Homo sapiens: one gene and its partners. The protein of the gene in region 2 interacts with the protein of the main gene of each other region in a biochemical or structural test. Each region holds a gene or a part of one and is shown on either strand. Other genes may lie near its edges.

Region 1 (7,191 bases), on a different chromosome or scaffold from region 2:
GTGGCCACAGCTACCACTCACAAGACAGGTAAAATAACTGTACCAGAGGTTGTGCTTAGCCCAATATTGGGAGATAGTAAATGCCTGCTTAGCTGGGTAAGGACTTCTAGGCTTGGTCACTAGTGATACTAAGAACAGGAAGGTCCTGGAGTGGGAGCCACATCTAATCCATGTCCCCTTTGAGGGCCAATTTAGGGCCAGATCCTGAAGGTCCCAAGCTAGTAGCCTTAGCCATGCTCACCCATAAAGGGGTACAGAGGGAAATCCACTCCAGGCCTGACCCAATTCCCAGTCCAGAACAAGGAGAGCACTGATGAGGTGCTGTGGAAGTTCTTGCAGTCAGAAGTTACCCCAAGTCACTCATCAGACATAGCATCTATGGGGAAGGGGTTAAGTCCAGTCTTACTTAAAGCTGGCACTGTGTGGGCCTACAAATTCTGGTCTCCCACCCCATCCCTGACTCACCCACAGCATCTGGACACCACAGGGGCTGGTCAGAGCTCAGTCTTGGCCCACAGGGTCAAAGCCTTGGTATTAAGAAGTGGGTCTCTGGCCTCAATCCCTCACCCACCCAGCCTGCCCTCAATCCTAGCACAGGTGGAAGGTTAAATAGTGCCCAGAGGGGGATGAAAACTCTCATTCCTCATCCTCTTACCCCCGTCTGCCCTCAGAAGAGCCACTTTTTCCCTAAAAGACTCAGAGAATCCCATTCCTGATACTCTGAAAAGCTCCCCGACCCCATTCGACTGCTGGGTTAGTGGGCAAAGAAGCTATACCTGGGGCCCAGCCCCACCAGCCCAACCCTGATCCTCTCCTAGACCCACCCGCATGTTCCCCTCCAAGGTACTCCGGGGAGACAACCTCCTCTGTTGGCCCTAGTGGTCCTGGGAAAGACACAGAGAGCTGGGTCCAGCTCCCTGCTCAGATGCTTTAAGACCTTGTGCCTTAAATAAGTCCTGTAACCTCTCCAGACCTGTATCAGGTCCTGTACCAAGTGCTTTAAATGTATAATCTCATTTCATGTTCACAACAACTCCTTATCTTTCCCCATGAATAGATGCAGAAACCTGGCTTCCAGAGTCTAGGATATCATCCAAGGTCATGAAACTGGCAAACACAGGATAGCTATTAGCCATATCTAGAGGACTCTGCACTTGGACTCATAATTAAAACTTGTGTAAAGGCCGGGCACGGTGGCTCACGCCTGTAATCCCAGCACTTTGGGAGGCCAAGGCAGGCAGATCACGAGGTCAAGAGATCGAGACCATCCTGGCCAACATGGTGAAACCCTGTCTCTACTAAAAATACAAAAAATTAGCTGGGCGTGGTGGCGCACGCCTGTAGTCCCAGCTACTCAGGAGGCTGAGGCAGTAAAATCGCTTGAACCTGGGAGGTGGAGGTTGCAGTGAGCTGAGATTGTGCCACTGCACTCCAGCCTGGCGACAGAGTGAGACTCTGCCTCAAAAAAAAAAAATCTTTTGTAAAATGAGAAGGGCCTTTGCTGTACTTCTAGCCTCCAGGAGCCACTATCCCTGCCATGCTCTACCCATCCATTGGCACAAGCTACAAATGAGTAAAGACCCCAGAGATGACAGATTCAAGGGATTCTGGGTATGGGGTGTGGCCCTAGGCCCAGAACTGTATGCCTTAAGCTGGAACCAGGTACCCGCCCCCAGCATCCCCCTGACCCCCACCATGCCACCTATATCAGCATGCCAGGTCTCCAGGGAGCCTATAGTCTGAGGTGGCTAGATGGCTGGCCCGCCCTCTGCCCAGGAACCAGGGGTGGGTTGGCCCAGGGCCTGTCCCTTTCAACACGGGACCAGCGACTCGTCAGGAGTCTATCAGCAGCCTCCTGAGGCTCCACAGGTGCAGTGGGCATCAGCCTTGTCCTCTGGCCAGCCCTGGGAGGCTCACACCACTCCAGCCCAGACAGGCAGGGGCCACAGGGAAGAAGCAGTCCCACCCAAGCCTTGGTGGGGTCTCAGCTTCCAGCAAAGGGAAACAGATCCATTCCAGTCAGAGGAGCTTCACATGGAAGGGGCAGCCAAGCTGAACAAGAGATCCCCTTTGGGCCTGAACACATGGGTCCAGCCAGAATCCCAGAGTCAGGAGTCACCCCTTCCCTGCTTCCGGATACAGCATCTCTAGCCATAGTGACTCCACCCCTTGCTCACTGGGACACTCAAAGCTTAGCTAGGCTACGCCTCAGTTTCCCCATCTGTGAAGTAGGGAGGACCACAAGCCTGACCTTACAGGACAGTATGACGATGAAACATGTTGCTGAGCATAGGAAGCTTAGCAGGGGCGCTAGACATAGCTTCACTCACAGGCTTCCGCTGTGGACCCTCCAGGATACCCCAGGCCTCAGTGAGGGCTCACTGACCTTCAGGGCACACTTCTGTCCAGTGCGCCGATGGAAGCACTCCAGCACTTTGCCGTTCACACCCAGGCCCAGCACCTGCTTGGACAACTGGTAGTCGTCGGTCACTGCGTACTTCTTGGGCTCCCGCCGCCCCCCCGGAGCACCGCCCAAGCCGGGTCCGCCGGGTGCAACTGGCGGGGGCACAGGGCCCCCCTGCTCCTCTGCTGTTTCACCATCCATGGCCCCCGCGGGGCGCTCAGAGGCGGCCCCAGCCTGGCGCTTCTAGTGGCACCTGGGGGAAAGGGGAAGAGTGAGTCCCGCCCAGACTTTTCCAACACACCCCAGCCTTGGAGCCTCTGAACTGGGCTGGGCTGCGAGCCCGGGGCAAGCTGGGAGTGCGGGACGAACGGCCTGAGAGTACAGACGTGCAGCAAGGGGCGGTGGTCGCGCGGCGGGGTACAAGCGAGCACCGCCCGGGCACGTGTCAAGAAGGGAAGGGGCCGGGCGCCTAATGGCCGCGAGGTCCCCGGAGGAGGCCGCAGAGGGGGCCCAGCGAGGGCGTACCTGGCGGCAACGCACCTTGCTGAGGTACCGGCGAGGGGCAGGAGAGGCGGTCGCGGGAGCTGGCGGCCGCAGAAATCCCAGGGCCGAGAGTCGCGCTGCCGGCGCCCACGTGACCTCCCCCCCCTCCCCACCCCCCCCTCCCCCACTCCCCCACTCCACCCCCCGCTCCCTGCGCGTCATCCCAACTTGGGGCCCCGCTAGGTCAGCCTTAAAGGGCCAGGCGGGCCCCGGCTGGGTCCCGCCCCCGAGCCGGAACAAAATAGGAGGCGTGGCTTCCCGAGGGGGCGGTTACTTCCTCGGTTTCCAGGGACACCCAGGGAGGCCCCTGTACTGGCAGTCCGCTACTGTGCGGGTCCCGGGTTTTACTCGCAACCTAGAACGTGACAGCGCAGGACGTCTTATTTCTCTTGAAAGCTCTCCTTGAGTCGGGTGTTTGCTCTGCACGCTGCCAGGTGGCCCTCCAGTATGGCTTGCTAGGCTTCCGACTTGCCTAGTGTTGGCCAACCCTCAGCGTACTCAACTTTTTAAACATGCCGAGGGAGGTGGCATCTTGTCGTTGTTGAATTCGCCACTCTTTAGTCTCTGGTGGCTCTGGGAGTCTCCAGCACTGGCGACTGCCCCCTTTTTGCAGCTCCCGCTTATGCCCTTGACTCGCTGCTTCCCTTTGGTATATACAGCATCCTGGGGACCAGAAATCCCGAGTTGCCATTTGATCAGATCCGCCAACATTTCACCTTATGGTTTGGGCTTTTGGCGTCGTGTTTAAAAAGTCTCTGTCTCCCATCCGAGTGACAGATATTCTCCATTAGCTTTCTAGTTTTGCCTTGCACATATAAGTCTCTGTTAAGCCCATCTTAGACTACCTTACGTATTTTGAGCCAGTTTTCCCAACACCGGCTGTTAAGCAACTCTCATTTCACAGATGAGGAAACTGGGACCCCTGGGGAGAAAACAACTTGTCTAGAGCCATAGGGAGGGTGGCTGTGGCTGTCTTCTGGGACAGATCTGAACTACTTGCGCACATCACATCACTCCCCCAATCCGGAAGCTGAGGGACCTGAGCGAGCTGGCTCACTTGGAACTGGGAAGGTGCGGCTCAGCGCAGGGGCTCTGCATGGGCCTCTGCTGTCATCTACAGGCCATCTACAGGACTGCAGGTACCAGGACCTCGGTTCCACTCAGAGGCGTCTTCCAGCCATCCTACTCTTGGCTCCGGAATTTAGGCCCAGTGAGCGCCTCCCCCTCAGCCCCTCTGGTTAACACACGCACACTCACGGACCCCTGGGCTGCATGTGCAGGCTCATCAGAGAAGTAGCTCTTGGAAAGATGATCTTCTGTCAATGAATGAGTGAATGAGTGACTGAAAGGGTGCTACAACTTATTAGTGGGTACCCACTGTGTGCAGATGTTGAGTGGAGATGGGGTTGGGGCTCTGCCCCTATTTCTTTCAGGCAACCTTCAAGCTAGCAGTGTTCAGTGAAGCAGGAGGCTCCAGACAATAGCCTCAGCTGGCCATAGTGAACACTTCTTGCAGACCAGATGCTGGGAATGTGCTCTCCCTGCAACCCCCTGACCTTACAGAGCCTAGAGGAGGTCACACTATCCCTTCTGCCCCACACTACAGACACACAGGACAGAAAAGCCCAGAGAGGTTAAGTGACCTGTCTGAGGTCAGCAGCTGTCATGACAGAGCCCCCATTCCAACTCCAAAGCACAACCTCAGGGCTGGGCTCTTATCCTCAAACCATGGCCTCCTCTCCTAGTCCTTTCTGGCTCCTCACACAGCCACATGTGCAAACATACTCTCACACATGTACACATGCAGTCACACCTTTACACATGTGCACACACATGCATATAACACGTATAAACACACATGCATATAACACACATGCACACAGATACACATGCACATGTGCACACACACATGCATTTATGCCCAGCTGGACCCAGGATTGATGTCCCTGAGCCCAACCTGAGAATCTGATTCAAGATCTCAGAGCCTCTTTGAAAGCCCTATGATCTGGAATCTTCTACTGCTGGGGGGAGCCAAAGAAGGCTCTCTGCTCTCTGAAGGCAACTAGTTTGAGCCTGGTGAACCTGAGGCTGAGCAAGATGTCATTCTGGTGAGCAGAAGGCTAGGCAGCTGAGGGTGGAGGCTGGCTCCTTGCCCCAGCCAAAGGCATCCCACTGAATGTTCTGTGAAGATGTCTTCTTTCTTTAAAATGGAATTAGATTATAATTGCTCTACAAATTTTATAATTGTATTTTTTAAGCTGGTCTCTTTTATTAAAATTTTAAGTTGCATAAGTAAAACTTCCTCATTGTAATTAATTCAAATTATACAGAAGTATGAAAAGTAAGGCAAAGGTGCTGCTTCTCCCCTCCCAGTCCCTATAACCAGTGTCCATGCTTCCACAGGCACACGCATTCCCCACATGGGTCCATCGGAGAGATGCCTTGAAACTACTCACTTAGCCCAGGAAAGTCAGAATATGTGGTTTCCCTTAGTGCTCATGTTCCAGCAACCACCTGCAGCATCCCCTCCACAATGATGGGAGGATTTGGCATGCAGGATGGCTAGGTCTGGTCAGGAGTGGGTTCATGATGGCAGACTCTGCCACACAGCCCTTCATGTAGCTGTGTGTCCAAGGGGACAGAGACTTTGGAATAGCTTAAAGTGAGGGGGGCTAAATCCTACACACACACACACACACACACACACACACACACACACACACTCTGTCCTTACTGGAGAGGGGAGGCTGTACATGGTGAGAGGATGGAGGCCAAATGAGCGAGACTTTTGGGAAGGCACTGCTGTGTATTCTTGTGATTCATCTTGTGATTGTTCTGGGTAGGGAGTGGCAGGGGAATCTTGCAGTAAGTTCAATCCCTGGGGTGCAGGAGAGGGATTATCCTAGAAGAGAAGAATCTATGGAAATTTGGCTAGTGAGGGCATGAGAGGGGGCACCGCTAGGTGGCAGTGTGGGCCCAGCAATCAGAGCCAGGGTTTCTAGGGAGCAGCCAGGGCAGGAGAATTAAGTACTAAGTTGGCCAGAGGGACCCAACTTAGTACTTGGGGCAGAACAGGGGCACATCACTGTTCCCAGCATGCAGGTGAGGTGCACAGTGCTGTCATATTCACACACACACAAAAATAGTTGGAAGGCCAAAACCCTTGGAACCCTTTGGTTTACACATAGACTGCATAATCACTGACCTGTAGGAGATACTTTCAAAGGGACACCCATGGTGCTCTGACATGGACAGGCCTGGGGGCAGAGAAGCTTCACTGAGGACCTTAAAGCTGGATGTCTAGGAGTCGGCAGATCACCAGCACCCATAGAGGAAGTAGGAGGAAGTGTGTAGGCTCCTGGCTTAAACCATTACTTGCCAGCTGGGAGATCTAAGTTATATTGTAACCTCTCCATGCCTCAGTTTTCTCACCTGTAAAGAGGAGATAATATGTGGTAGTTGTGACAATGACATGAGGCTGCAAATTGCTGAGAGTGCTTGACACATAGTAAGTGTTCAGTTGAATAGTCATGGTGAGGGGGAAGAAGTATAGTTTTGGTAGAGAGCTTGGGATTTGGCCCCATAAGAGACCCAAGTTCAAAATTGTAACTCTGTTGCCTGGCAGCGGCAAAGTCCTTTTGTCTTCATAGTAATGAGACAGTGGACAGTTCCTACTGGCAAGTCAGTGGTCCACACAGGGGCCGCATATCAGGCTATCCAGGTATCCCAGCCCTCAAAGTGGGTTATAAGGTATCCATCCCCCCTACCCCCATTCCAAGAAAGTGGCTTCTGGCCAACTCAGGAGGGGGCTGGCAGAGTTGCACTCATGAAGCCCGGCTTCCCTTCAGGAAAGCTACAGAGAAGTGACTGCCCTGAAATCTGAAACTTAACGTTTTTTCCCCAGTTTCACAGGGTTTTGCTTTCAGGTTTCTTTTGCCCTCTGCCATTCTGGGCAGAGCAAACTGAGCCCTGTCTTCCCTGGATGCTATCGTTCAGGCCCTTCAACAAGGCCAGGGGTCTGTCATCCCTGCCCAGGATCTCAGAGCTAGACTCCTTTCTGGGGACCCTGGGGGCACACACTGGGAGGGGGATGGGGGTGGGGAGTGGACCCTGCAACCTCTCCAAATCCCACAGTTCTTCTGGCCCAAGGGTTTGGAGGAGATTCACAGACCCTACAGTCCTTCAAGATGCTCCATAGTGAATCCAGTGAACTGAAAAAAGGTGGAGAGGGTCCTGGTAGGAGC
Region 2 (7,163 bases):
TCCCTTAGTGGTCCTAGTGTTCAAGCTTGCAGCATCATTGCCCTGGGGGCCAAGCCGTATCATAAAGGAAAATTATGTTTTTTCCATTCTGGCCAGAGCAAAATACGTGTGATAAAACAAAGACATTAGCCACTCCGCTTAGCACCCAATATCAAACTAGCAAGGCTTAAATTTGCCCCCAGATGGGCCTGTCATCTTTAATTCAACCTCCGACTTGGAGTTTCAACATGTGGCCTCTAGGTAAGATGGTTGCCCTGAGTAATAGAAAAAATAAGAAACGCAAAGTAGATAAGAAAAGTATTGCCTGTGGCAGGGTGGGGAAGCTGAAGAGCTTAGGGAGGCCAGAGAAAAGACCCACTCATTGCAGCCGACAATGAAAACCTCAGGCAGCCGCTTGTACGCAGCAAAGGGACCTTTTCCAGCAGTCCCATCAGCTCTCAAGATTCCCCTTTTATGGGGGGAGGGGGGAGGGATAGCATTGGGAGATATACCTAATGCTAGATGACGAGTTAGTGGGTGAAGTGCACCAGCATGGCACATGTATACATATGTAACTAACCTGCAAAATGTGCACATGTACCCTAAAACTTAAATTAAAAAAAAAAAAGACTCCCCTTTTAGAGAGGAAAAAGCTCCCCATGTCCCACGATCCTGTTCATGCCTAACTCTGTCACCCACAGCCATCAGCAAAGAGCGCAAGGCAGATTAATCCAAAGAGAACAGCAGTTAATATCCCATAGTGCCAAACCTGTTCTTAGCTGAGAGGGAGTTACCTGAGAGGGACTCTAACTCCCTATATCTTAGAAGGGCCTCCAACCCAAGGTCAGTCAAGCTTAAGCGTCCTTGCCTTTTATTAAGAGGGGCCTCGAACCCACTGTCTTAGGAGAGACTCCTAAACATAAATACTGGGTTTCCGCAGTATAGTCGCTTCTGTGGCCACCACAAATACGTTACAGGACCCCAACACTTACCCAAAGGTAGCCGTTGGGTCAGGGTTTCTGCACTATAGTCCCTTTGTGGTCGCCAGAAATATGTTACAGGACAGGCGTCCTGATCCAGGCCCCAACTGAGGGTTCTTGGATCTCGCGCAAGAAATAATTCAGGGCAAGTCCACAGTGCGATGTAAAAGTAACATTATGAAGAAAGTAAAGGAATAAAAAGAACGGCTACTCCATAGACAGAGCAGCCCCAAGGGCTGCTGGTTACCCCTTTTTACTGTTATTTCTCAATGATAGGCTAAACAAGGGGTGGATTAATCACGCCTCCCCTTTTTAGACCATATAGGGTAACTTCCTGACATTGCCATGGGATTTGTAAATGGCGCTGATGGGAGTGTAGCAGTGAGGATGACCAGGGGTCACTCTTGTGGCCATTTCAGTTTTGGCCGGCTTCTTTACTGCAACCTGTTTTATCAGCAAGGTCTTCATGACCTGTATTTTGTGCTGACTTGTCTCATCCTGTGACTTAGAATGCCTTAACTGTCTGGGAATGCAGCCCAGTAGGTTTCAGCCTCATTTTACCCAGCTCCTGTTTAAGATGGAGTTGTTCTAGTTCACACGCCTCTGACACCATCTCTATTTAAAAACAAACAAACAAACAAACAAAACAAAACAAAAACTGGCAAAGATAGCACACCCTATATTTAAAGTCAGAAGGGACTGCCACCTGCTGGTGATCGGGTAGGAATGGACAGATAGCTCACAGACCAAACCTAACCCTAAAAGATAACGGCAAGTATTAAAGAGCTAATACATTCGACTTTAGGGCAACAGTATTGATTCTAATTAAGACACGGAGATAACTGCATATGATAAACTCCAAGAAAAAAGAGCATTTTAGAAGAACGCATTTCTGTTAACAAAAACCTCAGGTTAAAATGCATTCTGAGACATAAATGCCTACGAACTCATCACAGGTGAGGCCAGTTTGACAAAGATGCCTGCCAGATCCACGCCGAGCTTCTGAACCCTAAAGGTTCTCAAAGACTACCAGTTGCCCAATCTCTTCAAAACACTAGCGCCACAACCAGACATTATTTCACATTGCAATCATTTCAAAGCGATTCAGCCGCCAGCTGCACGGCGTCGATCAAAGTGAGAAATGCCAGGCTTCGTTTTTTGACATACAAGATCAAAGAGAAAGTCACCCTCGGCTGGGTCGCCCATCCCAAAGGGTACAGACGCCCTTGTGTCATTCCTAGCCAGGGGTAAAGCCGCCTACTGTCCCCACTCTGTCTCCGCTGCCAGGCGCATCTCTCCAGGACTGTCTGGGGCGTGCGCAATGCCCGTGCGTCGGTTGCCCGCTAGACTGCAAGCTCCAGGAGGGTAAGGGGCGCGCCTCTTCCCTCAGGGTCGCCAGCGCCGACGCGCTTCGAGGACCCTGTCGCGGGGTTAACCAGACCCGGGCTCCGCTCGGCGGACACCGCGCCGAGGCCATATCCGCGCCGCCCTCCGCCCGGCTCCGGGCCCAACCTCGAGACCTCCCACGGAGAGCTAGCGCCTGCGACTGCAAAGGGCGGCTTCTGAGGCGAAAGCCACCCCGCGGCGGGCGGTTTCGGGCTTTACTTTTATTTGGGGGCGAGGGAAAGGAGGAGACGCACGACTGGAAGGGCGCAGCGCAGCTCTGCACCGAGGCGCGGAGGCCGGAAGCGCGGGCGGCCCCTCCCCCTGCCGCTGCGCCCCTCCCCCACCGCCACCACCGCGCGCGACCCCCACCAGGCGCGCGACCCGCGCTGCGTCCCCGCCGGCGCCACGTTCCCGCGTCCTTCCCCGCCCGGGCCACGGGGCACGTCCCTCCCCGCCCCCCACTTACCTGTGGCTGCCGCCTCGCCGCTCTCCGGGGCGGGAACTTCCACTCCCCCCTCCCAGGTAGATCCGAATTCACTACCCACTTCCCCACCCCCTCACGCAGCGGGGGACAAGCCTCCTTCTCGGGGGTCAGGCGGGGCGGGGAGAATCAGTGTCACTTAACAGCCAACTGTCCTAAGCTACCGTTTCCTCGGCAGTCAGGGCCGCTACTGGCGGCATGATCTACACAAGCCTGGGGGCGGGGGCGGGGGCGGGGGAGGGGAGGGGGGCAAAACTGAGCACTAGTGTGCGTTTGGGGTAGGCTATGGCGCTGCCTCCGCGCGGGCCGCCGTCCTGCGTCACCGCGCTGCCCACGTGACGCGCCGCCATCTTGTACGCGGTCCTGACTTGTGGCTAGGGGTTCCTCGGAACGCGTTCCTCAGGCTGCAGCGGGAGAGGGACGGTGCCTGCGGTTCCGTTTCTCCTTAGGAGCTGTACCCCACCCGCCCTACGTCCGCTTCCGGAGGCCATGAGCAGCTGGGTGCTCGCGGGGGGCGTTTTCATCGATTAGTGGCGGCGCTGTCAACTCACCTGCCAATTGACCTTGACCGACGCCGGCCCTGTCCTCTTGGAAGGAGAAATGAAGAGTGAAGGCTTTGACTTCCTCAGCTTTTTTTTTTTTTTTTTTTTTTTAGATGGAGTCTCTTTTTTTTTTCCGAGATTGAGACGGGGGTCTGTGGCCCAGGCTGTAGTGCAGTGGTTCGATCTCGACTCACTGCAGCCTCCAACCCCGGGATTCAAGCGATTCTCCAACCTCAGCCTATGGGGCAGCTGGGACCACAGGCGCGCGCTACCACGCTCGGCTTGAAGAGATGAGGACTCTATGTTGCTCAGGCTGGTCTTGAACTCCTGGGCTCAAGTGATCCTCCGCCTCGGCCTCTCAAAGTTCTGGGATTACAGGCGTGAGCCACCGTGCCCGGCCTTACTCAGATTTTTCTTAATCCCATAAAGTAACAATGAGTTGTGTCCTTTAACCCATGTGGAAGGATTTTCTACAGAAACGGATTTACAATGAGACATAACGATGTGGCCGGGCGCGGTGGCTCATGCCTGTAATCCCAGCACTTTGGGAGGCCCAGGAGGGCGGATCACCTGAGATCGGGAGTTCGAAACCAGCCTGACCAACATGGAGAAACCCCGTCTCTACTAAAAAATACAAAAGTAGCCGGGTGTGGTGGCGAATGCCTGTAATCCAAGCTACTTGGGAGGCTGAGGCAGGAGAATCGCTTGAACCCGGGAGGCGGAGGTTGCGGTGAGCCGAGATCGCACCGTTGCACTCCAGCCTGGGCAACAAGAGCAAAACTGTCTCAAAAAAAAAGAAAAAAGAAACGTAACAGAGTGTTAATAAAATGTTATGCCGTCATTTTAATGCATTACAAAAACTTCAGAATATTTTTGGGTCTACCTCTCTGGAAGGGAGTTATGCCTTATTCTTAATTTTTAAAATTTCCTTGTAAAATGCTGTTTTATGGCTTTAATGATAGTAAACGACAAAAGATAAACTTTTTTAGTATGCTCTTGACAAAAGTTCCGAAAGTTTTCTGAAATTTTACTAGTTTGAGATCCCCAATTTAGGAAACCGATTTAGTGGAGAGAGCTTTGCCTATTTTTGGCCCTTTGGGTCGGAGAATGTGATATAAAGCCGAAGATTTACTCTGCCAGACAGTCTTAAGAGGTCACTAACGTTTAGCTATTGACATTCAGCAAAAATTGTGGATTACCTATTAAATGCTAGACCAGGGGACAACTGTTATTAAGTCAGTGTTTCAGCATTACTGAAAGAAAAGTGGCCTATAAAGGTAAGGGAGAGGAAGAGTTTCTCAGATACCAGCCTTCGATGATTAACAAAGTCCAGCCTCAATCATTCTGGAATCCAGAATATTGATGGCTGGAAGGCTGGTTGTACAAGTTTATTGTTCTTTGGTGTTTGGTTTTTTCTTCCGTGGACCACAGAATGCTTAACAAAAGTTGATCAGTAAAAAGCGGGGGAGGGGCTAGGCGTCGTGGTTCATGACTGTAATTCCAGCACTTTGGGAGGTGGGGGAGGGCAGATCACCTGAGGTCAGGAGTTCGAGACCAGCCTGGCCAACATGGTGAAACCCCGTCTCTACTAAAAATACAAAAATTAGCCAGGTGTGGTGGCACACACCTGTAATCCCAGCCTCTCAGGAGGCTGAAGCATGAGAATCGCTTGAACCTGGGAGGCAGATGTTGCAGTGAGCCAAGATCACGCCACTGCACTCCAGCCTGAGCCACAGAGGGAGACTGTCTCCAAAGAAAAAAAATAAAAACCTGGAAATTTTATTGAAAAATGAAACCTTCAAAATGTGCCTTGACTACTTCTTTAGCTCCTCTTCCTTAGTGCCTTAGGTCTAAATCAAATGTTACGCTCGACCAGTCCTGGTGGCATGCGCCTGTAATCCCATCTACTGGGGAGGCTGAGGCAGGAGGATCATTTGAGCTCGGGAGTTTGAGGATACAGTGAGCTGTGATCATGCCACTGCACTCAAGCCTACATGACAGATGAGACACTGTCTCTAATTTTTTTTTTTTTTTTGAGATGGAGTCTGCCTCTGTCGCCCAGGCTGGAGTGCACTGGTGCAATCTTGGCTCGTTGCAACCTCCACCTCCCGGATTTCAGTGATTCTCCTGCCTCAGCCTCCAAGTAGCTGAGAGATTACAGGTGTGTGCCATCACAGCTGGCTAATTTTTGTAGTTTTTTAAGTAGGGACGGGGTTTCACCATGTTAGCCAGTCTTGGTCTCGAACTGCTGACCTCAAATGATCCGCCTGCTCAGCCTCACAAAGTGCTGGGATTACGAGCATGAGCCACGGCACCTAGCCTCTAAAATAATTTTTTTTAAAATTGTTTAAAAAACAACTCAGGCCGGGCACGGTGGCTTACGCATGTAATCCCAGCACTTTGGAGGGCGCGGTGGGTGGATCACCTGAGGTCAGGAGTTCGAGACCAGCCTGGCAAATATGACGAAACTCCGTCTCTACTGAAAATACAAAAGTTAGCCAGACGTGATGGCGTGAGCCTACAGTCCCAGCTACTCGGGAGGCTGAGACAGGAGAATCGCTTGAACCCAGGAGGCGGAATTTGTGGTGAGCCGAGATCGTGCCACTGCACTCCAGGCTGGGCAACAGTGAGACTCCATCTCAAAAAAAAAAAACAAAAACAAAAAACCACGACTCAGTTGACAGAGGAAAAGAAGAAAAAAAGTTATGCTTGTTCAACACTGCCCCTCAAAAATACTTCTGCTTTTCTTGTCTCTTTCTCATTGAAGTATCATAAACTGTGCCTACCAGTCTTCTGAACTGTGATAACTAGATGAAAAAAAAAAAGAGGTCTTGGTTCTGATGCATGCAGTTTATCTGAATAGTAAGTTTCATAAATCAGATGGACAGATCTTTAATATTAGAAGCAAGGAAAGTGAAACAAAGAAACTTAGAGCCATGGCCGGGCAGGGTGGCTCACGTCCTCCGTAATCCCAGCACTTTGGGAGGCCAAGGTGGGTGGATCACTTGAGGTCAGGAATTCAAGACCAGTATGGCAAAACCCTGCCTCTACCAAAAATACAAAAAATTAGCTGAGCGTGGTGGAGCACACCTGTGGTCCCAGCTACTTGGGAGGCTGCGGCAGGAGAATCCCTTGAACCCAGGAGGTGAAGGTTGCAGTAAGTCGAGATCGTGCCACTGCACTCTAGACTGGGTGACAGAGCAAGACTCCACCTCAAAAAAAAAAAAAGAAAAAGAAAAAGAAACTTAGAGCCGAAAGTAATTTTTTTTTTTTTTTTGAGACAGAGTCTTGCTCTGTCGCCCAGGCTGGAGTGCAGTGGGGGTATCTTGGCTCACTGCAACCTCTGCCTCCTGGGTTCAAGGGATTCTCCTGCCTCAGCCTCCTGAGTAGCTGGGATTACAGGCGCCTACCACTACGTCTGGCTAATTTTTGTATTTTTAGTAGAGATGGGGTTTCACCATGTTAGGCTGGTCTCGAACTCCTGACCTAAGGTGATCCGCCCGCCTCAGCCTCCCAAAGTGCTGGGATTACAGGTGTGAGCCACCGTGTCTGGCCAAAAGTAATTGTTTTTTTTAAAATAAACTGGGCAAGCCTGTGGTAGCACCACTTTGGCTCTTCTGGCACACTTTTTTGTTGTTAGAAAAGAGAGATGTGGCCAGGCATTGGCTCACACCTGTAATCCCAGCACCTTGGGAGGCCGAGGCGGGTGGATACCTGAGGTCAGGAGTTTGAGACTAGCCTGGACAACATGGTGAAACTCCGTCTCTACTGAAAATACAAAAATTAGCCAGGCGT
Region 3 (6,990 bases), on a different chromosome or scaffold from region 2:
AGAATTCCAAAGAAGTCCTGGGAATCATTTATTCTTTTTCTCTCTCCAGACCCCAGGAGCCCAGGCTGGGCTGGGGGATGGGGGCGTGGCAGGCCCCGTACTCACCGCTATGGCTCTCCCCATCACTGCTGAGATAGGGGTAATACTCGTGCGTTTGGCGTTGGTATAGATCCGTGTCATAGGGCACCAGGTCTTCTGATGGCTGCTGAGAGAGGAGGTGTCAGGGCCTGCACCATGGTGGGAGACCCCAGCCAGGCCTGCAGCACCCCCGCACGCTGGGTCCCCATCACCTTCCCTGGCTCAGTGGCTGCGTTGGACCTACAGCCCTCCCTCTGCCTGGAACTGGGACAGAGAGTGGGGCAGGGGACCCAGAAGGCCTGAAAAGGGGTGACAGGGACCTTGGGGGTGAGAGGTCAGAAGAGGACCAGGGTCCCCCTCTGCTGGGCTACTCCCCATAGCCACCTCACGCTCACACTCACACTCACGCCTGTGTGCCCCCATCCTCATCCCACACACCTCTCCTGGTCACACTGATGCACATGTCCACACGATCCCTGTGTCACCCTCACACTCATAATCCCACACGAGGACTCACTCTCACAGCCCCTACCCACCCCCATGCAGGCGCCTGCACACTATCCCTCACACACACATCTTCATACCCACTCAGAGGTCACCCACCTCACAGAGACATTGTACACTCAGCTCATGCACACACGCAGAGTCTCCTTGATTGACACTCACATGACACCACGTTCCAGCCATCAACACACACACTCACACCCCCAGAGCCACTCACATTCCACCTGCACACTCAACCGCACAGCACACACTTGCCTGCCCAGCCCCACTCTCACAGCCTATGCCTCTCACACAGCCTGGGCAAGAGTGGCACCACAATGACCCTCCACACTGACGGTTGGTGCAGGGGTCACCCAGGCAGACTTAGGGGCCGAGCGCATGGAGGGCCTTGATCCCCTCACTCTCCCTCCTGAGTCCTCCCTATCCTCCTCCTTCCCTCCTCACTGCATCCCCCTCCCCGTCTCCTTTGCTTCCTCCTCCCCCTCCTCACTCCCCTCTGTCCTCCTTTTCTTCCCCCTCTTCCCTGTCCTCCTTCTTTCCTCCCACCTTCCTCCCTCCTCCCTGTCCTCCTCCCCCTACTGGCACAGACACAGGGCCGTGCACACCCAGGAGCCTTCCCAACAGTCATCAGGCCTCCCCGCCCCCGCAGCGTGTGGCCCAGGATTGCATAACAGTCACTGTGGCCCTTAGGGCTGGGCTTGGGGGACCGGGGCTGCCTTGGGAGCCCACCCTACCAGGAGACACTCAGAGTGACCCTGGAGCTTGCAGAGAGGGCTGGGGGTGCCTAGGGATGGCCCAAGGAGCTCTGCCACCCATCTAGCTCCACCTGGAGTTCAGAATTGAGAGGTCAGGGATCAGAGACAGTGGGCCTGTGGCTTTCTTGAGGCAGAATTGGCTCTTTCTGAGACAACCTCCGTCACCCTCTGCCTGGGCCGCCCACTTCGTGTTCCCAGGTGGGAAGGGGTGTCGGTGTGGATGCCACAGCAGGCTGGCTGGTCCTGCCTGGTCCTGCCTGTGGCTGGCCAAGTGAGGAGGCCAGGAGCCCAGCACTGAGCCTGCCCCTCTGGGTTTCCAGGTAGTACAGCCTCGCTGCAGGATGTCAGCCCGGCTCTGGTCGGGTTGGTGTGATGTCAGGCCTGGGGTGCCTCCCAGCCTCCTGGGGTGGCTCTGAGCCAGGGCATAGTGGGGGAAGGGAGCTGCCTCTAGACCAGGAAAGTGGATTCAGGTGGGCAGCCTGCCAAGCCCTTCCCGGCTCCCCTCAAGCCTCCTCACTCCTGAGAGGTCATGGGGTGGGAAAAGGGAGAAGGGTCCTTTCCGAGGGACCCTGGTCTGACACCTGCCTAAGGCTGCAACTGTCACTGAGAGTGAGGAGCAGTGGCGATCTGCCCTTCTCTTCTCGGGGTCCCCTGGGGCTCCCACTTCTTCACCCCCAAGACCCAGTCCCTGTCCTTGTCCCAGCCTCAGCCCCCATTCTCACTTATCACATGCTCACCCCAGGTCCCACCCAGCCCCAATCTCAGTCCTGGCCTTGTCCCAGCCCTGTCCCCTGCCGCGCCTCTCCCTGAACTCCAGCCCTGGGGCCAGCCCTAACTGCACTGTCTCAGCTCCACTCCTGGCTCCTTTCCAGCACCAGTCCCTGTCTCCTGTGGGTACCCCTGTGGGCCCATGGCCCTGACCCTTTGGTCAACAATCATGTCCTCTGTGCCAGGCCCCAGACTGGGCGTTGGGGACCCAGAGTTCCATCAGCTTTGGTTTCCAGGAGCCCCAAGGCCATGGGCCAAGACTTCTGCCCATTGCCTCCTGCCTTCAACCCCTTCCCATCCAGGGGACCGGCCTCCCCCAAGCCAGTCCCCCCATCTCCCTCCTCTACCTCTCTACCACCGCCTTCACCATCCTCAGCCCAGCACCCTCCCCAGGAGCCCCGGCCTCCGCCTGCCACCCGAGCCCTGTCTATAAATAACTGTTCAGGCCCCACCGATCACAGCCCCACCGTGGGCCTGGCCTCAGCCCGCCAGGGCATGCTCCGAGGAAGCCAATGGCCCCCTCGCTGGGTCTCAGGCCAGGAGTTCCAGGGAGGAAACCCTGACTTCCCACTGATAGCAAGCCAGGAGGGCAGTGGGTGGGCTGGCGGGTTCGTGGGCAGGCAGGCAGGCGTCCGAGGGCCACGGGTTGGGCTGGTGGAGGAGTCCCGGTACTCACAGGGGGGACGAGGGGAAACCCTTCCATTTTGCACGCCTGTAACATCCAGCCGGGCTCCGAGTCGGTCAGATCCCCTGCCTCGGTGGGGGCCAATGCAGAGCCCCTCAGGATGGGGTGCCCCGTCAGGGGCTGGACGGTCGTGGGGCGGGTGCAGGGCTCAGGCCTGCCCCCTGAGCTACAGGAGCCCTGGGTGAGCCCCCTCCCTTGACATTGCAGGGCCAGCACAAGTTCCTGATTTTATCGAAGGGCCTGCCGCTGGGAGATAGTCCCCTTGGGGTGACATCACCGCCCCAACCCGTTTGCATAAATCTCTTGCGCTACATACAGGAAGTCTCTGGCCGGCTGGGGCAGGTGGTGCTCAAAGGGCTGGCCTGGGAAGCCATGGGGTCCAGGCCCCCTGCCCAGAGGAAGCTGGGACTGAGAGGGATGACTTTGGGGGCTAAGCTGGGGAGGGAGGATGGGAGGGAGAACGTGTAGCTCTGCCACACCACTGGGAGGCTTTTGCTCTAACCCAACAAATGCCTGCTTCTTTTGAGATCCCTATGTAGCCAACAGTCACCTCATTGGGGTCAGAGCTGGAAGGGGTGGCCTCTTGGGGCCTCCACTTTCTGGAGTCAGCCTTCCTGGGTGAGGGCTCTGATCTAGCAGGCTATCAGGCCTGGCTCTTCCTGTGGCCCTGCACCCCCACTGCCTAGGCTATCCCTAGGCTGAGGCTGGGCTCAGGTGTAGGGTCTTCAGCATAGTGCTGCTTTCTTCCTTCCCTCTGAATCTGTTCACATGGGCTTCCCTACCACCAGAAGAGGGTCCTGGGTTCTTATACCCTCCCCTCCCAGCTTCTTGATTACCACATTCAAATCCCTAGGGCTCTGTTTCCAGCCCAGGTTTCTCAGTTTCCCCATCCCTTGGCAATGCCTGAATATCAATCTAACCCTCCTGGTTTACAAACCTTTCTTGCCTATCCACCATTCATCTGTTTTCCCATGCATCTATTTGTCTGTCTATTTGTCCATCCAGCTATCCATTCATCAAGCCCACCATGCATTCACTTATGTGTCCATTTATCCAACTGTCCGTTTGTTTGTTCATTCATCTGTCAGTCAATTCATCCACCCACCCATCTGTTTATCTACTTGTCTATCTAACCATCTATATGTCCATTAATCAGCCCGTCCACCTGCTATCAGTCCATCAGTCCACAATTCCATCTGTTTATCCATCTATGAATCTGCTCATCCATTCATCCACCTGTCCATCCATCCACCCATCCACTCATCCACCCATCTACCCATCCACTCATCTGTCCATCAACCCATCCATCATCCACCTACCCCTTCATTCATTCATCCATCCATCCACCAGTCCACTCATCCACCCATCTACCAATCCACCCACCTACCATTCCACCCATCTATTCATCCACCTATCCATCCATTCACCTATCAGCTTCGGTTTCCAGGAGCCCCATGAGAACAGGCAGTATTTGACTTTCTGTTTCTGCGTTGTTTCGCATATGATAATGTCCTCCAATTCCATCCATGTTGCTGCAAAGACATAATTTCATTCTTTTTTATGGCTGAATAGTATTTCATTATATATATATATAAATACAATATAACATGTTATTTATTCACTCACCCGTTGATGGACACTTATGTTGATTCTGTATCTTTGCTATTATGAATAGTGCTGTGATAAACATACAAATGCAGTATCTTTTTGGTATCACTCATCCATCCAGCCATCCATTCATCCATCCATCCATTCATCCACCTATCCACCCATCTACCCATCTACCCATTTACTCATCCACCTGTCCACCAATCCAGCTATCTACCCATTCATCCATCCACTCATCCACCTATCCATCCATCCACTCATTCATCCAGCCATCCACAAATCCACCCATCCACTTATCTATCCATCCATCCATTCATCCATCCACCAATCCACTCATCCACTTATCTATCCATCCATCCATTCATCCATCCATCCATCCACTCATCCACACATCTACCGATTCACTAATCCACCCATCCACCAATCCACTCATCTACCCATCCATCTATCCATCCATCCACTCATTCATCTATCTGTCTATCCACTTATCTGTCCATCCATGCATCTTCCCAATGTTGAGTTCCAGGCTCTAAGCTGAGCGCTGGGAAAACAAAAAAGTATTATACAAGACCCCTGCCTTCAGAGAGTTCCTGATCTTTTCTGGGGGGTGGAGGGATGAGTAGAGGCATTTTTGTTTTGTTGTTGTTGTTGTTGTTGTTGTTTTTCTGGCCCAGTGATCTCTGGTGAGTCCCCTCTGCTGGGAAGGAATTTTGAACATTCAGTGTCCTCCCCTGTATAATCTAACCCCTTGCTTTAAATTCCCACTCCACTAAGACAGGCCTGCCTTCTTGCCAGTGGATTCCTAGGCCACAAGTGTTTTTTCATTAGCAGCAAACACCAGAATTTCACAGCTCTGGGCTCACCATTAGATCTACTTGACTTCCACCTTCACTGACTTTGTATCTGCACTTGGGACTCTCCAAAGGCTCCAGGCCACAGGTCCTCAGGGCTCCCTAGGAACCTGACCAAGGCCTCTCCCAAAAAGGAGGGGAGGGACAGGTTGGCTTGGCATCAGTTCCATCCTTGTTCCCACTTCCCCATCAAGAAGGCCAAGCCCCAGCTGACTGGGTGCAGTGGGGTGTAAGGTTATCCACTCCACAAGATCTAGGCCCTGCTTGATGTGTTCATTCATTCACTCGTGTGTGTTATTGTCTTGCTTTGGTTTGTTTATATGCTTATTTATTCATTCATTCATTTAATCACTTTTTTGTATAAATGTAAGGGGTACAAATGCAGTTTTGTTCCATGGATATATTGCATAATGGAGAAGTCTAGGCTTTCAGTTTATCCATCACCAGAATAGTGTACATTGTGCCCTTTAAGTAATTTCTCATCCCTCACCATGCCTCCCCACTCTCCCACCCTTGCAAGTCTCCAGTGTCTGTCATTCCACATTCTATGTCCATGTGTACACATTATTTAGCTCCTACTTATACATGAGAACAGGCAGTATTTGACTTTCTGTTTCTGCATTGTTTCGCTTATGATAATGGCCTCCAATTCCATCCATGTTGCTGCAAAGACATAATTTCATTCTTTTTTATGGCTGAATAGTATTTCATTATATATATATATATATATAAAAATATAACATTTTATTTATTCACTCATCCGTTGATGGACACTTAGGTTGATTCTGTGTCTTTGCTATTATGAATAGTGCTGTGATAAACATAAAAATGCAGTATCTTTTTGGTATAGTGATTTATTTTCCTTTGGTTAGATACTCAGTGAGATTGCTGGATCAAATGATATTTCTTTTCCTTTCTTCTTTTCTCTCTTTTTCTTTTTCTTTTGAGACTGAGTTTCGCTCTTGTTGCCCAGGCTGGAGTGCAGTGGCACAATCTTGGCTCACTTTGCCTCCCGGGTTCAAATGATTCTCCTGCCTCAGCCTCCTGAGTAGCTGGGATTACAGGCGCCCGCCACCACGCCCAGCTAATTATTGTATTTTTAGTAGAGATGGGGTTTCATCATTGTTGGCCAGGCTAGTCTCAAACTCCTGATCTCATGTGATCCACCTGCCTCGGCCTCCCAAAGTGCTGGGATTACAGACGTGAGCCACCATGCTTGGCCAGTTCTTTTTCTTTTGAGACAGAATGCCACTTTATCACTGAGGCTGGAGTGCAATGGCGTGATCTTGGCCCACTGTAGCCTGGACCTCCTGGGCTCAAGCGATCCTCCCGCCTCAGCCTCTGGAGTAGCTGGTACTATGGATGTGTGCCACCTGTAGTCTCATCTAATTTTCTGTATTTTTTGTAGAGATAGGGTTTCACCATGTTGCCCAGGCTGATCTTGAACTCCTGGGCTCAAGCAATCCACCTGCCTCAGCCTTCCCAAATGTTGGGATTATAGGTGTGAGCCACTGCATCTGGCCAAAAGGTAGTTCTGTTTTTAGTTCTTTGAGAAATCTCCATACTCTTTTCCGTAGAGGTTGTCATTTAATCACTTACTTTTTATTGAGTGTCTTCCATGGTCTGGGCCTAGTAAGGGGGATAGACATGAATGAGGCATACTCGGAGCCTCCAGCAGCTTACAGGCCTGCAGAGGGTCATGTGAGCAGATAGTGGGGCAAGAGAGGAGGTGCCAGGTACA

Evidence for each region. Proteins that work in one complex are often made in the same cells at the same time.
Region 1: of the proteins of ATF1 (region 2) and MAPKAPK3, one has a biochemical effect on the other in vitro, tested with the Homo sapiens proteins (one study listed by BioGRID).
Region 3: the proteins of ATF1 (region 2) and SPI1 form a complex in vitro, tested with the Homo sapiens proteins (one study listed by BioGRID).

What each region holds. Positions count from the first base shown.
Region 1 is NC_000003.12:50,612,980-50,620,170, reverse strand, and holds the start of MAPKAPK3 (MAP kinase-activated protein kinase 3), read right to left. Parts: upstream 3,021-7,191; 5' UTR 2,930-3,020; intron 2,658-2,929; 5' UTR 2,606-2,657; coding exon 2,387-2,605; intron 1-2,386. UniProt on the Homo sapiens protein: Stress-activated serine/threonine-protein kinase involved in cytokines production, endocytosis, cell migration, chromatin remodeling and transcriptional regulation.
Region 2 is NC_000012.12:50,759,956-50,767,118, reverse strand, and holds the start of ATF1 (cyclic AMP-dependent transcription factor ATF-1), read right to left. Parts: upstream 3,019-7,163; 5' UTR 2,812-3,018; intron 2,793-2,811; exon of another isoform or gene 2,715-2,792; intron 2,650-2,714; exon of another isoform or gene 2,565-2,649; intron 2,541-2,564; exon of another isoform or gene 2,195-2,540; coding exon of another isoform or gene 2,127-2,194; intron 1,069-2,126; exon of another isoform or gene 972-1,068; intron 431-971; exon of another isoform or gene 1-430.
Region 3 is NC_000011.10:47,375,528-47,382,517, forward strand, and holds the start of SPI1 (transcription factor PU.1), read right to left. Parts: upstream 3,021-6,990; 5' UTR 2,827-3,020; coding exon 2,782-2,826; intron 206-2,781; coding exon of another isoform or gene 203-205; coding exon 106-202; intron 1-105. UniProt on the Homo sapiens protein: Pioneer transcription factor, which controls hematopoietic cell fate by decompacting stem cell heterochromatin and allowing other transcription factors to enter otherwise inaccessible genomic sites.